2 linked regions of the Homo sapiens genome follow. The protein of the gene in region 1 interacts with the protein of each later gene in a pairwise test. Each region holds a gene or a part of one and is shown on either strand. Other genes may lie near its edges.

Region 1 (7,975 bases):
TTTTTAATAGAGACAGGGTTTCACCATGCTGGCCAAGACGGTCTCGATCTCTTGACCTTGTGATCCGCCCCTCGGCCTCCCAAAGTGCAGGGAGTACAGGCGTGAGCCACCGCTCCTGGCCCATACTCTCTGCTTTAATTCTGAGCTACCAATACACGTTTTTTATAAACACCCACTTTTGATTTAAGCTCACTTGTGTTTGTTGCCTGCAACCAAGAGACCACTGAGGAAACTGGTTCAGCATCAATCATGTCGTCCTGACTGCATTCCCAGCATTAGAATAGCACTGGCCACAGTTGGTGGGTAATCCACACTTGCTGAAGGAATGAGGGGTATGTGCACTGGTCCTAAAGAATAGGTCCAGTCTGTTTAATTCAGAAGTTACAATCAAATTTATATCATACTTACCCAGTACGCAGTAGTACCCAAAGGGCTACTGTGAATCCCAAAGTGAATATGGAGATTTGCTGAAACTAACCTTAAAGCGACCACTAAAGCTGTGCCTAATAGCAACATGAAAGAAATATAAATCTACATTAACTAGTTTCAGGAAATCAAGCTTATGGAAGCTCTATGTGAAATTTCACAGCAATCTTTCACTCATGCAAATACAGAGGAACACCTCTTGAAAATGCAGATAGTAGGCCGGGGACCGTGGCTCACACCTGTAATCCCAGCACTTTGGGAGGCTGAGGCAGGCGGATCACAAGGTCAGGAGATGGAGACCATCCTGGCTAACACGGTGAAACCCTGTCTCCACTGAAAACACAAAAAATTAGCCAGACATGGTGGCAGGCGCCTTTAGTCCCAGCTACTCGGGAGGCTGAGGCAGGAGAATGGCATGAACCTGGGAGGCGGAGCTTGCAGTGAGCCGAGATCGAGCCACTGCACTCCAGCCTGGGTGACACAGCAAGACTCCGTCTCAAAAAAAAAAAAAAAAAAGAAAACGCAGATAGTTTCCTTCAAGAAAATATTTATTGCATATTATTAGTGATTATGTTTTACAGCAAATTTAAATACATACACTTTTCACAAACCCAAAATGGGAATCAGGGCAACTATCAAATTTAAATGTTGAACCAAGTCCTGGTTTTCAGAATTCAGCAGCCAGTCATGGTTCTGTACCAGGGCCACCAGTCCATGATTTCCAATAGTTGAGGATCTTTTCTGTATTTGGAACAAAATCTTCTTTATATGTGACAACTGTTTCCACATAAAATCCTTTTGGGCGTTCAGAGAGTTCACTGGGTACTTCACTTGCTGAGCCATCCTTTTGGTCTACTTTATCACCATTAAGAGAAAAAAAAAAAAAGAACACCTGAATTATTAACTTAGAAAGCAGTCATTAAAGTCTTAGAAATTAACTAAGGTAAGAATTACATCCACTCTCTCCAACCCCAATAATGAAGGAAGGAATGAAAAGGAAGGGAAAAGAAAAGCTGGGTGCGGTGGCTCACGCCTGTAATCCCAATCTCACTTTGTGGGGGCCGAGGCAGGTGGACCACCTGAGGTCAGGTGTTTGAGACCAGCCTCGCCAACGTAGTGAAACCCCATCTCTACTAAAAATACAAAAATTAGCTGGGCGTGGTGGCATGGGCCTATAACCCCAGCTACTGGGGAGGATGAGGCAGGAGGACTGCTTGAGTTGGGAGATGGAGGTTACAGTGAGCCAAGATAGCGCCAGTGCACTCCAGCCTGGGCGACAGAGCTAGACTCTGTCTCAAAAAAAAAATAAAACAATTCGCCGGGCAGCAGTGGCCTGCGCCTGCAATCCCAGCTACTCGGGAGGCTGAGGCAGGAGAATCACTTGAGCCCGGAGACGCAGGTTGTGGTGAGCCGAGATCATGCCACTGCACTCAAGCCTGGGCGACAGGGTGAGACCTTGTCAAAAAGAAAAAAAAAAAGAACGAAAGAAAGAAAACATAAATATGGACATTAAAATATTTTTACTTTATATATAAATGTAAAGTATTTTTACCATATATTACATATAAAGTAAATATAAAATATTATATATAAAAATTTCTTTTTCTTTTGGTAGAGATGGGGGTCTCCCCATGTTGCCCAGGCTGGTCCCGAACCCCTGGGCTCAAGCAATCTCCCACCTCGGCCTCCCAAAGTTATGGGATTACAGGCGTGAGCCACTGCACCCGGCCAAAATGTTTTTAAATGCTTAATGCTGGACACATGTACTTTCAGGCCACTGACAGCTTCATCACCAAATGTAATCTTCAGCATAGTTTTTACACAACAACTTTACTGAGATATAATTAACATATACGATTAACCCACTTAAAATATACAATTTAATGTTTTTAGTATATTCAGATTTGTGCAACCAGCACCACAATCAATTTAAAAATACTTTCATCCACAAAAGGAATCCATACCTTTGGCAGTCATTCCCCAACTCCCCAACCCCTCAGCCCCTAGCAACCACACTAATCAACTTAATGTCTCTACAGATTTCCAGCATATTTTTCAAAGCTGAGAGACTTTTCTCCCTTTGCGCTTAGTAACTGGAAGATTTTAATACGCCTTGGCTGCTAAAAGTACTGAAATTGCTCGCCATATACGATGAGGGACAGTAGTACTGAAGCATCACTCTTTAAAAATCACCGGCCAGAGTCTCTGAAAGTCCACCTTGCACTTTACACAGATTCCTCCAATTCTGAATATGGGGACGGCCCTATCCAGTAAATGATTCAGATTTAGGAAACAATATTTACAAGGTATTAATAATTCCTGGAGTCTAGTTCTTTGCAGATTCCATTATAACAAACGGCTGTTAGCACCCGTTTCAATTAGTTTTGCAGAATAAACCTGGGATTTAAAGGACAGGGAAGTTGTTTCCATGACCCCCGGGGAACTCTCATCGAAGGCCGTGTGTTCCGGGGCAGGCCCCGCCGAAGAGCCCTACCTGACGACTTCGCCATTGTCCGGCTATAGTAAAGCAGTGAGCCCAACACAGACCAGGTGCCGATCCCGTAGACCACCGACATCCGCCGGTACCAGGCCGTGAACTCATTTCGATACATGGGTACGCCAGCGAGTGCCTCGATTCTCGCAGGCCCACGGCAGAGGCGGGACTTCCGGTGAGGGCGTCGCTGCGGTCCCTGCCGCCGGAACCATTAAGGAGCCGCCAGTTTTCAGCGTCCGCTTCCGGCTCTGCCCCGATGCACCTTGGGGCCTCTGGCCCGGAAAGTCGCTCAGGTGTCCGGACTTTCGGGTGTAGAACTGTGGGCGTGCGATACTTTTTACCACGTGACGAGGACTAAATGACAACTTAGAGGAGAAGCTTCTCACTTGCAAAATTGTAATGCCTTCGTGGGCTCCAGACGGTATCCGAAAAGGTTACTTCCAATTCCTCTTCCAGTTTTCAGATTTGCAGGGATACCGCTTGTCTCTCCCCGCAACTCTTCTTTTCCTCCATTTTTCTTTCCGGAACTCTGGGTGAACTTTAAATACTTCCAGGCCAAAGCTAATCCCTCCACTAGGCTCTGGGTACTATTTTTTCCAGCCTCAGTGGCCTTTCCCCTCATTGACACCCTAAGTCCTCCCCCATCTTCATTATTGACGTTTATCCTTCATACAAACGTGCCCATGTCTCAAAAACAAAAAATCTCCTTCGACTCCGACCACCTCCAGCTTTTGTCTTATGCATACATTTTTTAAAGCAAGATGCCCTCAATAGACTGAACAACTTAAGAGCAAGTGTGATGTGCTTGGCACAAGGTAGGCCCGGTAAATTAACGTTAAGTACTTTTCAGCCACACTCAAACTTGGTTTCGAAAGCATTTGCCACCACTGACCCCACCTGCACCTTTCATGGCTTCAGAAACATCATTTTCCCTGGTATCCTTCAGGGTTCTTTTCACCTTGCCCACCCTTTAAAAACTGATGTTCTGCCCTACAGAAATAGATAAAAAACTTAACTCTGAATGGATCGCTGACTTAAATGTAAAAGCTAAAACTATTTAATATAAGCCTAGAAAAAAACCAGGAGAATATGTTTGCCATCTTGGAATAAGCACAGAATTCTTAGAATAAAAAAGGCATCCCAAGCGGGGTGGCTCATGCCTGTAACCCCAGCACTTTGGGAGGTAGAGCAGGGAGGATTGCTTGAACCCAAGAGTTCCAGACCAGCAAGGCCAACATAGTGAGACCCCATCTCATTTTATATATATATGCATAAAGCGAAAATGGATAAATAGGGCTTTTAAAAAAAAATTAAAATTTTTGCTCTTTGAAGGTCACAGTTGAGAAAATGAAAAGCCAAGCCACAGAATAAAATATTCATAATAACATATATCTAACAAAAGGACTTGGATCCAGAATATATGAGGACGCTTTACAACTCAGTTATAAAAATACAGCCCAACTAAAAACCAGGCAATAAATTTGAATAGAACGAAAGAAGATATACAAATGACCAATAAGCACAGTAGCATCATTAGTCATCACAGAAATGGACATTAAAAGAATACAATAAGAGACCATTACACACCTACTAGAATGGCTAAAATCAGATTGAGAATGCCAAGAGCTGTAAGGATTTGGAATAATTGGAACTGTTATTGATGGGAACATAAAATGTTACAATCTCTTTGCAAAACTTAGTTTTTAAAAAGTTGAACATATGCCTACCATATAACCCAGGCATTCCGTTTCTAGTTATCCATGAGAAATGAAAACCTGTGTCTGCACACAGCCATGTACATGAATGTTCATAGTTTTATTCTTAATAGGAAAAAATAGAAACCACCCCCAATACCCATCGAGTAAATGGCTAAACAAAACGTGGGATACCACTTACAAATAAAAAGGAACTACTGGCTGGGTACGGGTGGCTCACACCTGTAATCCCAGCACTTTGGGAGGCCAAGATGGGTGGGTCACCTCAAGTCAGGAGATCGAGACCAGCCTGGCCAACATGGTGAAACCTCGTCTCCACTAAAAATACAAAAATTAGCCGGGCATGGTGGCGGGCGCCTGTAATCCCAGCTATTCCAGAGGCTGAGACAGGAGAATTACTTGAATCCAGGAGGCGGAGGTTGTGGTGAGCCGAGATTACACCACTGCACTCCAGCCTGGGTGACAGAGTGAGACTCCTTCTCAAAAAAAAAAAAAAAAAAAAAAAAAAAGAACTACTGATAAATACAACCATACGATGAATCTCAAAATGGATTATGCTAAGTGAAAAAGCAAGCTAGACACCAAAGAAACCAGTCACGAAATTCTAGAAGCAAACTCCAGTGGGAGAAAGCTGATGAGTAGTTGTCTGCAGTAAGGGCATGGAGAGAGGGAAGGGCTAAAAGGGTCTGAGGAGACTTTGAGAGGTGATGGTAATGTTCTGTATGTTGATTATTGTGGTGGTTTCTGTCAAGATTTATCCAATTGTATGCTTTAAATGGGTGCAGTTTATTATATGTGAACTATAGCTCAATAGTTATAGACAAAACAGAAAAATTGGTATTGTTTCAAGCTTGCGTCTCTTCTCATCCTTCTCATCAGCCTTACTCATGATACCTATGTTATATGTTAATAACTCTCAAATCTACTCCAGATTCTCTGAAAGCAAATTCATGTTACTGCCAACCTGCTATGCATCCTCGGCTGCATATTCCACAAGCTCCTGAAACTAAAAAAATGTTCCGAATTGAATTTATCAATGCCACTCCCAACAGGAAACAAACCTTCCCTTTCTCTTCCCTGATTCAGAGAGTGATTGAGAAATTGCCCAAGCCAGGAACTTGGAATCATCTCACCTGACATCCTCTGTCACCTCTGTCTAAATACCCTGTCTCTGTTTAGGCCTCATTTCTCACTTGGATTACAGTCTCCTCTCATCCTTCCCCCTCTGGAGTGTCTTTCAAACCTTAAATTATCATTTCACCCTCTGCCTAAGATAAGTCAGAGGCTTGCCCTACCTTCAAGATGGAGTTCAATACCCACAAAAATTAACAATTAATAAAAAGATGGAGTTCAGAGTCCTCACTGGGCATACTGGGCTCAGTGGCCCCTTCTCATGATAGCTGTTTTCCACACAGCACTATCACCCTGCCACCCCCTACATTCTGTGGAAAAACGTCACTGGTACCCTAAGGTGGGACCTGCATGGCCATGTCATACCATGCAGTTCCCTCAGCTCCTTAACTCACTGACACTAGAGAGAACCGCAGAGTTAGCTGGGTCTATCACACAGTCTTTTTTCTGTTAATTTGAAACAGAAAAGCCAAAGAGGATGTTTTGGCCTTAATCTGTACAGACAACTTTATGTATTCTTCTATATGATGTGTTAAAAATTATATCCAAAACTAAAAATATTCTTGGAAAACGCACAGAAAAATGTAAATGTTCAACTTTTTTTTTTTTTTTTTTTTTTGAGATGAAGTCTCCCTCTGTCACCCAGGCTGGAGTATAGTGGCGTGACCTCAGCTCACTGCAACCTCCACCTCCGAGGTTCAAGTGATTCTCCTGCCTCAGCTTCCCAAGTAGCTGGGATTACAGGTGCCCACCACCACTCCTGGCTAATTTTTTAATATTTTTAGTAGAGATGGGGTTTCACCATGTTGGCCAGGCTGGTTTTGAACTCCTGACCTCAAGTGATCTGCCCACCTCAGCCTCCCAAAGTGCTAGGATTACAGGTGTGAGCCACCGCACCTGGCCAATGTTCAACATTTTAAGATAGGAAACTCTGCTAGAATTCTGCTAGAATGTAGGGCAGAGACAAAAAGAAATACAATAACTTGTATTCGAATACAAATTCAAAACAGAGTATTGCAATCAATCCAGCTGTTCCAACATCCAATTAATAGGAGCTTCCAGCTTCATTTTCCTACATAGCACTCATTACCTTCTAATGTATCATTTACTTCATTTCTTTTTTGTTTTTTATTTTTTTGAGACGGAGTCTCGTTCTGTTGCCCAGGCTGGAGTGCAGTGGCACAATCTCACTGCAACCTCCATCTCCTGGGTTCAAACAATTTGTCCCTGCCTCAGCCTCCCAAGTAGCTGGGATTACAGGTGTGCACCACCATGCCTGGCTAATTTTTGTATTTTTAATAGAGAAAGGGTTTCGCCATGTTGGCCAGGCTGGTCTCAAACTCCTGACCTCAGGTGATCCGCCCACTTCGGCCTCCCAAAGTGCTGGGATTACAGGCATGAGCCACCACGCCCGGCCATATCATTTACTTCTAACATTGTTATTGTTGGTCTTCCCTAACTAACACATAAGCTCTATGAAAACAGGAATTTTTGTTTTATTGGCAGTATTCCCAATGCCTAGAAGACTACTCCATAGACAACAAGTACCGGATAGTTATTTGTTGAACGAATGAAAGAATGACTCCAAAGTTCTGAGATTATCTTGGGCCTATACTTTTTAGACCCAGTGGGTTAGTCTGTCTTTGGATCTCTGTAATGGAACACCCGAGACTGGGTAATTTATTTTAAAAAGAGGTTTACGGTTTATGCTTATGGCTTACGGTTCTGTAGGCTGTACAGGACGCATGGTGCCAGCATCTGCTTCTGGTGAAGGCCTCAGGAAGCTTACAATCAGGGCAGAAGGTGAAGAGGTAGCCCGATGTACCACATGGCAAGAACGAGAGGAAGAGGTGGGGGAGGTAACACTTTAAAAAAATTTTTTTTGAGACAGTCTCGCTCTGTCCCCCAGGGAGTGCAGTGGTGCGATCTCGGCTCACTGCAACCTCTGCCTCCTGGGTTCAAGCCATTCTCATGCCTCGGCCTCCTGAGTAGCTGGGATTACAGGCGCAAGCCACCACACCCGGCTAATTTTTGTATTTTTAGTAGAGATGGGGTTTCACCATGTTGGCCAGGCTGGTCTCAAACTCCTGACCTCAGGTGATCTGCCCGCCTCAGCCTCCCTAAGTGCTGGGATTATAGGCATGAGCCACTGTGCCCAGCCAACACACTTTTAAACAATCATACCTCATTTGAACCCAGGACAAGAACT
Region 2 (7,897 bases), on another chromosome or scaffold:
TCTAAATCAGAAATAAGAAAGACGATGGGGACTCCTGTTACTGCTACTTCTATTTAACCATGTACTGAGGTCCTATCCAGTGCTCTAAGTAAAATGAAGGATTGTAAGGATAAGTATTTGAAGAGAGAAAACAAACCTTGCACTATTTGCATTGGCCATGACTAAATCTGTAGAAAATTTGAAAGAATTCATTGAAAGAAAGTTAGAATAATTAATAATAATTTAATTAGGTTGCTGATTCAGCATTGATATAAAAATCAATTATATGTCCATCTACTAAATCAGGTAGAAAATGAAATTTTAATAGATATTATTTAGAATAGCATAAAAATTAAGATAACTGGGAATATATCCAGCAAAAGACAGGATATTCCAGAGAAAACTATAAAACTTCATTGAAAGACATTGAAGACCTAAATAAATGAAGAGATATACCCCGTTCATATGCTAGAGGAGTCAATATTGTAGAAATGTCATTTCTCTCCAAATTGATCTATGGGTACAATGCAGTGAGATCAATATTATAACATTTTTATGTGGAATTTAATAAAATAAACATTCTAAAATATTTATAGAACTCAAATGAGCTAAGAATAGCCAAGAGACTGTGTAAAAAGAGAAAAACATAGAACTTATTATAAAACTATAATAAGAGAAGCAGAGTATTAGTATAAATATGAGAAAATGGAACAACAATAGAAGAAAGAGACTAGAAACATTTACATGTATATAGACATGATGTATGGCAGAGGTTTATTGAAGATCAATGGGGGAAAATGGAGATTTCAATAAATGGCGCTTGGACAACTGGCTTTCTATTTGGAAAGAACATAAAATTGGAGCTTTACCTCCATCATTCACAAAACTCACTTATAAGTGGGGGTATTTCCTTTTTAAAGAAAAATGGAACTATGTTGCAAATCTTTTCACCTATTTTTCCCATGTCAATAGATAGAAAATAATACATATATAAAATAGATATGACTTTTAATAAATGTACCAAAATTTATTCAGTCTGATTAGTTCATTGCAAATATTTTACTATTATACAGTGAGCATAGTTGTATAAGAGATCCTAATTTTCACACATTCTATACTCCTACAGCTTCTTTCATACACTGAATGTGCTGCTTTTAATAAGTGAACATTTTGAGCTATTACACGGCAGCTACACTGCCTTTATTGTATTGCATTTGCTTTTATTTTTATAAAGAACTGTGCAAAAACGAAACAAATGAATTTGCTGCTACTAGTGATAAGCGGCACAGTATCGTATACTTTTAAATAGGCACAAAGATAAAAAGCACTTGGCATTGTGAGTGTGGCTAATCTTGAGCGCACTCACATACTCACTGAACTCAATCCATTCAGTGGTACTCAGTCATCAGAGAAAAGAACAATGGTAAAGAACATGAATAAAATACTCGGAATACATATTATTAAAGACTTGGTATAAAGGAGATGTATAATTAGACATTTTATCTTTCTCTTTTAAATTCCTCTGGAACAGAATCTATTTTTTTTTTTTTAGCATTCACATATCCACTTTCACCAGTGTTTTTCAGATTTCCATTATGTAAAAAAGGACTGCCTACATTATATATTCATCAGGTTATTCCAGTAGGATAAATTCCTAGAAATACAGTTAATAGGGCAGAAGGTATGCATATATTTTAGACACTTTATGTATACTATGCCAAATTGCTGAGACAGGATGTTCCAATCTATATTCCCATCAGAAACACACACCACCACTAAGCTTTTAATCTATAACATGCTTTTTAGTCATGACAATTCAATCTTACTATTTTAATTTGCATTTCTTTGCTGAAATCACTCTGTCTCCTTACCTACAAAATGCAGATAAAGATATCTACCTATAAGGATTACATAATATTATGTAAAATTCTTAGGACAGGTGCCTCACATGTAGTAAATAATCAGCAAATATAAGCTATTTTTTCATATGCTTATTTCTTTTATGAATTTTCTATTCTTACCCCTTGCTCACTTTTTATATTAGTCCTTTGCCCATTTCTCATTGCTTTATCCTAAGAGCTTGTTAAAAGGAAAGTGAATTCCTGGTCTATCACATGCTAATATTTTTCCCAATATGTCATTTAAAAGTTTGTTTAGAATGTCTTTTTAAATAAAAAGACAAATGCATCAATATGATTTTTGCCTTAAATGTCATGCTTAGAGAGGCCTTGTCCTCCTTAATTTTATACTGATAATCACTTAGATTTTACCCTAATACTTTTTTTTAACTTCAAACTTCTATTTTAAGTTCCGGGATACATACACAGGAGGCGCAGCCTTGTTACATAGGTATAAACGTGTGCCATTTACCCTACTACTTTAATGATTTTATTATTTTACATTTAGTTCTTTAATCAAACTAGAATTTTTTTTATAGGGTGAAGGGAGCTATGTTTTCCAAATGTTTTGCAATGGACATGTATTATTTTCATAGTTAGAAAACATCTCAATACTCTGAACATTAATATTAGAATCAAACTTATCACTCTATTAATATTGGAATCAAACTTTTCACGACATTCCAACTCCATCTGCTAATTTTCAGACTGGCCTAGACAACTGTGAACAGACTAATTTGCATACAAGCTGAATGTAATTAGTCCACAGTTAACAATTACTTTCCTATTGGCATTCTCATTGATATAAATTACCAAGGTTTTCTCTATACTAGGGTCAGTAAACTTTTTCTGTAAGTGACCAGATAATAAACATTTTAGGCTTTGGGCCATACAATCTGTCACAACTACTCAGCTCTCCCCTGTAGCACAAAGGCAGCCACAGACAATATATTTGTGAATGAATATGGCTGTGCTCCAATAAAACTTTATTTATGGATACTGAAACTTGAACTTTACGTATTTTTCTGTTCACAAAAATTATTCTTTTGATTTTCTTTGCATCATTTAAAATTAGAAGATTCTTGGCTTCTGGGCTATATAAAAACAGGTGGCAGACCAGTTTGCCAATGCCTGCTTTATTTCAATACTTTTGGGTGTGTTGTCTATAGTAGCACCACCCAACAGAACCTTCTGCACTGACGGACAGGCTGTATACCTGTGCTTTCCAGTATGATGGCTACTAGCTACATATGGCTGTTGAGCACTTGAAATGTGGTGAGTGTGACTTAGGAACTAAGTTTTGAATTTTATTTAATTCTAATTAATTTAAATTTAACTAGCCACATGTGGCTAATAGCTACCGTATGGGATAGTGCATACCTATAGATTGGGCCTAAATAAATAATATGTAGATATAGATACAGATGTATGTGTGTGGGTATTTTTCTCCTGAGGATCTAATTTGACATATTTAGTACAGTCACAAAAATCGTGGATATTTACTCAACTAAAAGTTCCACAATTTTTTTCCAGTGACAAATGGGAATAGCTAATTTTCATTTCTAAAGCCCTCTTGCCCTAAGTTCTCTGAATGCCAATTAAGCAATGAGCAGAACATGTAATCAGAGCCCCAGAAGCATTTATGCCACTCCTGCAGGTGGCAGCTTCTCCTCATTGCTGTTATTCCTTAAAGGCACACCACATCCTCTTTCTCCTGACACTGCCCTCTCTATCTCCACAGGGTAAAAATAAAAATAACTGAATTAGTGGGAGAGGACTATAGCTATTGTCACTTTTCTTAGGTACCAAATGCTTTTCTAATAAAAAAGCACACTTACTGTCGGGTCAAGCTGATTATTCCGTGTTGTGATGGACAGTTCAATGGTGGACAGCTGCACATCTTTCCAGACCTCCGGGCTCACCTCTTGGGAAAGGGCTGTGGGAATCCATTAGATACAGGTCAGTTTCTTCCATTAACATTTCACCACCCACCACGGACGGCTAGCTGCTAGCTGCTCAGCTCAGCTTCTCAACCTTTCTGCTGACTCTGCCTTCATTTTATTTATTTCATGCTTCTTATACATAGAGGTAAAAATGGCATCTCTGTGCCTAAAACATCACTACCAAAAGCAGTCACGTTAACAGAAAGACTGTGCACAGAGACTGCTATGCCCATTGATGGCACATTGCTTGGGCCTGCTCTGGTGGCACACAGAAGGATGAATTCAGTGATCCCTGAGAGGCTTCTCCTGCTCTAGTTAAGTCTCTAAAACTGATTTTGGAGGTCTACTTTAGGGCACTTCTAAACTGACCAGGGCCCTCCAATCTTTAGTCGCCACATTGCTCACCATCCTGTGGTTGTGCCCAGTAGGACGCAAGCCTTCGTAATATTCTCCTGTACAAAGAAGGCCTTTGTACAGGGGTCTCCTCTGGTTCATTGGGAGGTCTCTCTGTAGGTCCCGTGTATGAGATAGAGGCTTGATGAGTCTGAGGCCACTCCTTTTAATGTGGAGAGAGAAAAATTTTGTTATGCATGTACAATTCCACTCTGGGAGTTTCTCTCTGCAAAAGTTATTTATTTGTCTACCTATACCTGCTAGAAAGTGAACTAATAATCTCCTCTCACTGGATGGAATGCTAGTTTGGAGCATGGAATCCTCAAGCTTTCTTTTCCTCTTAAAGCTACATCTTAAAAACCATGAATTCAGCAAGTACTGCCTCCATTGCTCCCCCTAAAATTGGCTAACCACCACCATTTACATTTGTCCAAAAAGAGGGTGAATGAACATAGGGTCATCCGTAATAAATTTATCTTTGGCTTACAGATGGTGATGCAAAATGAAACTGAGGAAATCCAGTTGCATCAAGTACCTACCTCACTTCTGGAATCTTATTCCACACACAGGCCAGAATGGTTTAGCCCAGGCTCACAATCCAGCCCAAGGCTTCTCACTTCTGCTTCAAAGCCCATCACCCTCACACTCTAATTTTTTTTGTCTTCTATGTCCTGGCATCCCAAGTCCAGTGTCACCCTGGATCACATCCTGACCGCATGAATGAATAAAACCATACCCCAGCCTCTCAGCCCTTGACATCACCTCTGATTCACCACATCCACCCATTTCCATGGCCACATCCTGGCCCCTAATGTCACCCAGAACTATTCCACTTTGGAAATCTAAAACCCTGAGATCCTGCTCTCTAATCACATCCCATATTCTTCTGGTTGATTCTTTTGTGCCCATTGTGTCTCTTAGGGTGAAATGCTTCCCTGTTCTCAAGTTTCCAGGTGGTGAATTACAAAGCAGTAGCAACACTGGCTTCTCTCACTCCACTGCTTACTCACTCCTCCCCAAGTCTAGAAGGACCAATGCATGGATCCAGCCCTTTCCTTTCTCTCTGACAGCAGCTGTCCTTGTCTCAAACGGTCACTGCTTCTAATTTTCATGTGGTGAAAATTAGCTTCTTGTGGTGGTCTCTGCCCTGAAGGAGCTGTTTCAATGGACACCTTTGTTCACAGTATTAGGAGATCAGATAGAGACCACGTATCTGTGCTCTGTCCTCCACTCCTGCTGACATTTATAAAGATGACGTTTTGATCTTCATCTGCCTAGTTCCTGCATTTGTTTTCATACCTTGGTTCAAACTAAAAAGAGGAAGAGAGGGGTTTTATTGTGGGCCCCTGAAGACCTAACTGCACCAAGTTTTCAATCACATTGAGGATTCTACTCCCTGACCACTCATTTTCCCCTCAGTGCCAAACTGATAGTCAATTACTTTCAAGTGCTTTCTTTTTCCACTTACTCTTGGCTTTCCTGTGTCTTTATTCTTCTACAATATGTCCTAAAAAGCCCCAGTTCTGGATCAGCCTTGTCATTAAGTTCCTGTACTCTTACATCATGGCTCAGTATTACTAGAGAAGAAAATGATACTCCTGCTGAGTATTAATACAGGGAAAAGCAGTCACCCAAAGGAGCATTCATGTCTACAAATTGTTAGCCTCAGGTCTTCAGTGCTACTTGATAATCCTAAGCCTCCTCCTACATTCATCTTTCTTCAGGATACCCCATACCACTACTCACCACCTTTCTGACAGGATCACTTTGCTTCCTACACTTCAGTGAGAATATCAGGGACATCAGTGAGAATACCTTAACTTTCTCTAATCTCATTTTCATCTGGACCTACCCTTTACTCCTCTTCTGTATCAATGAAAAAAGGTGCCCCTTGTCCTGTCCAGGGACAATCCAGTACTCTGGATCCCACGCCCTTCTACCCGCTCTTGGATTTTGCCAATTCAGTCATGCTTTCTGTCTCCCTTCTCACCTCCTCACATTCTTTTCTTTTTCTTCAGTCTAGAAACACATGGATATTCTCCACTTTTAAAAATTCCATATTGACCCCATGTTTCTCTCAGCTTTTGCCTTCCCTATCTCCTTCTCTTCAAAGTCAGGTTTCTTGAAGGAGTAGCGTGTCCTTGCTGTCTCCACTTCTTTACATCACTTTTATTTCTTGACTTTCTTCAGTCTGGCTTCAGCCACCACACTTTGGAGGCTGCCCAGCTTTTGGAGGCTGCCAAATTCGATGGATACTCTCTTGTCTGTATATTTAAAGTCTTTGCTTTTGCTTCTCGAAACTCTTACTTTTTTCTTGAAATTCTCTCTTCTATTGGCTTCTATGTTAGTATTCTCTCCTGCATTTTCTCTTAGCACTTCTCAGTCATTTTTGGTGGTTCTTTAAATGTTTATGTCCCTTAGGGATATTCCTGGCCATCTGTACTCAATGGTAATTTCACCCAACCCATGGTTTCAACACCGCTCACACACTTATGACATTTGAATCTGTTTCTTTAGTCCAGACCTCTCTGCTGAATTCCGACCTAAATCACAATTGTATCTTTGCTTGTCTGTACCACAGGTATGTTAAACTCTACATAGATTAAACTGAAAATTTCATCTCTCTTCACAAACTTGATTTACTCTAGTATTACCAACATCAGTGGAAAACTCCAGTTACCAAACTCTAGTCCCTCATACCAGAAATCTGATAATCCTACATTCTTCTGACTTTTGAGGTTCTAACTTAAGAGTTCTTTAATCCATCTTCTATTGTCAATACTGTTACCTCCTTAGTCTATACGTCACTTCCCACCTGACTACTTTAACAACCTTCTATCTAATGTCCTTGCCTTGAGCTACCTACATCCTATCTGTTTTTCTGTTTAGAAAAAAACAATTTTTCTAAAATGCAAATCTGCTCATTTCATGCCTCTGCTCAAGACTCAATAACTCCCCATTGCTTTAAGGATAAAAGTCAAATTGCACATCAAAACCCGCCATAACCTGCCCTTACCTAACCCACTGGCTTCACTTCCTGCCATTTTACTGCATTAATCATAATTAAGGGCCATGTCACACCACTGTGACTTCACACAGCCTTTAAATGTTTCAAAATTTAGTGTGTCTCCTCTGCTGGGAAGATTTTCTGACCCTCATTAGATTTAGATGCCCCTCCTCTCTGCTCCCTTCTTAATCTTTCTATCTTTCTCTCACAGCACTTGCCAAACTGCTGATTTACTTACACTTCCCTCCCAGCATCTGAATACTTCTTGAGGGCAGGAAACCTGTCTCATTTGACTTTGTATCCCAAGCATATGTCAACTATTGTTTGCTGAATAAATAGTGGCAACAGTTTATATTCCATTTAAATATGTAGCTACTCTATTTCTTCCTAAATGCACTCACAACTCCACCAATGAAACTCGAGGAATAACCGATTTTACTAATCCAGTTTGCCCTTGGTATATAAAGACCTTGCCCTGCAAAGTTCATTTTTAAAATCACATACATTTACTTCTAGTAGTTCAGTGATTTTAGGGTTTTACATTTAATTTTTTAATCCAGCCAGAATTTTTTTAAAAGGTAAAGGAAGCTATGTTTTCCAAATGTTTTGCAAGGAACATGTATTACTTTTATAATTAGAAAAACATTCAATAACTCTGAATATTAACATTGGAACCA

What was found. Proteins that work in one complex are often made in the same cells at the same time.
Region 2: the proteins of SMIM26 (region 1) and AGK interact in binary tests that used the Homo sapiens proteins (3 or more experiments, as listed by UniProt).

The regions. Positions count from the first base shown.
Region 1 is NC_000020.11:18,562,542-18,570,516, reverse strand, and holds SMIM26 (small integral membrane protein 26), read right to left. Parts: upstream 3,086-7,975; 5' UTR 3,039-3,085; coding exon 2,921-3,038; intron 1,282-2,920; coding exon 1,112-1,281; 3' UTR 957-1,111; downstream 1-956. UniProt on the Homo sapiens protein: May play a role in cell viability.
Region 2 is NC_000007.14:141,637,727-141,645,623, reverse strand, and holds part of AGK (acylglycerol kinase, mitochondrial isoform 1 precursor), read right to left. Parts: intron 4,377-7,897; coding exon 4,226-4,376; intron 3,814-4,225; coding exon 3,716-3,813; intron 1-3,715. UniProt on the Homo sapiens protein: Lipid kinase that can phosphorylate both monoacylglycerol and diacylglycerol to form lysophosphatidic acid (LPA) and phosphatidic acid (PA), respectively. Does not phosphorylate sphingosine. Phosphorylates ceramide.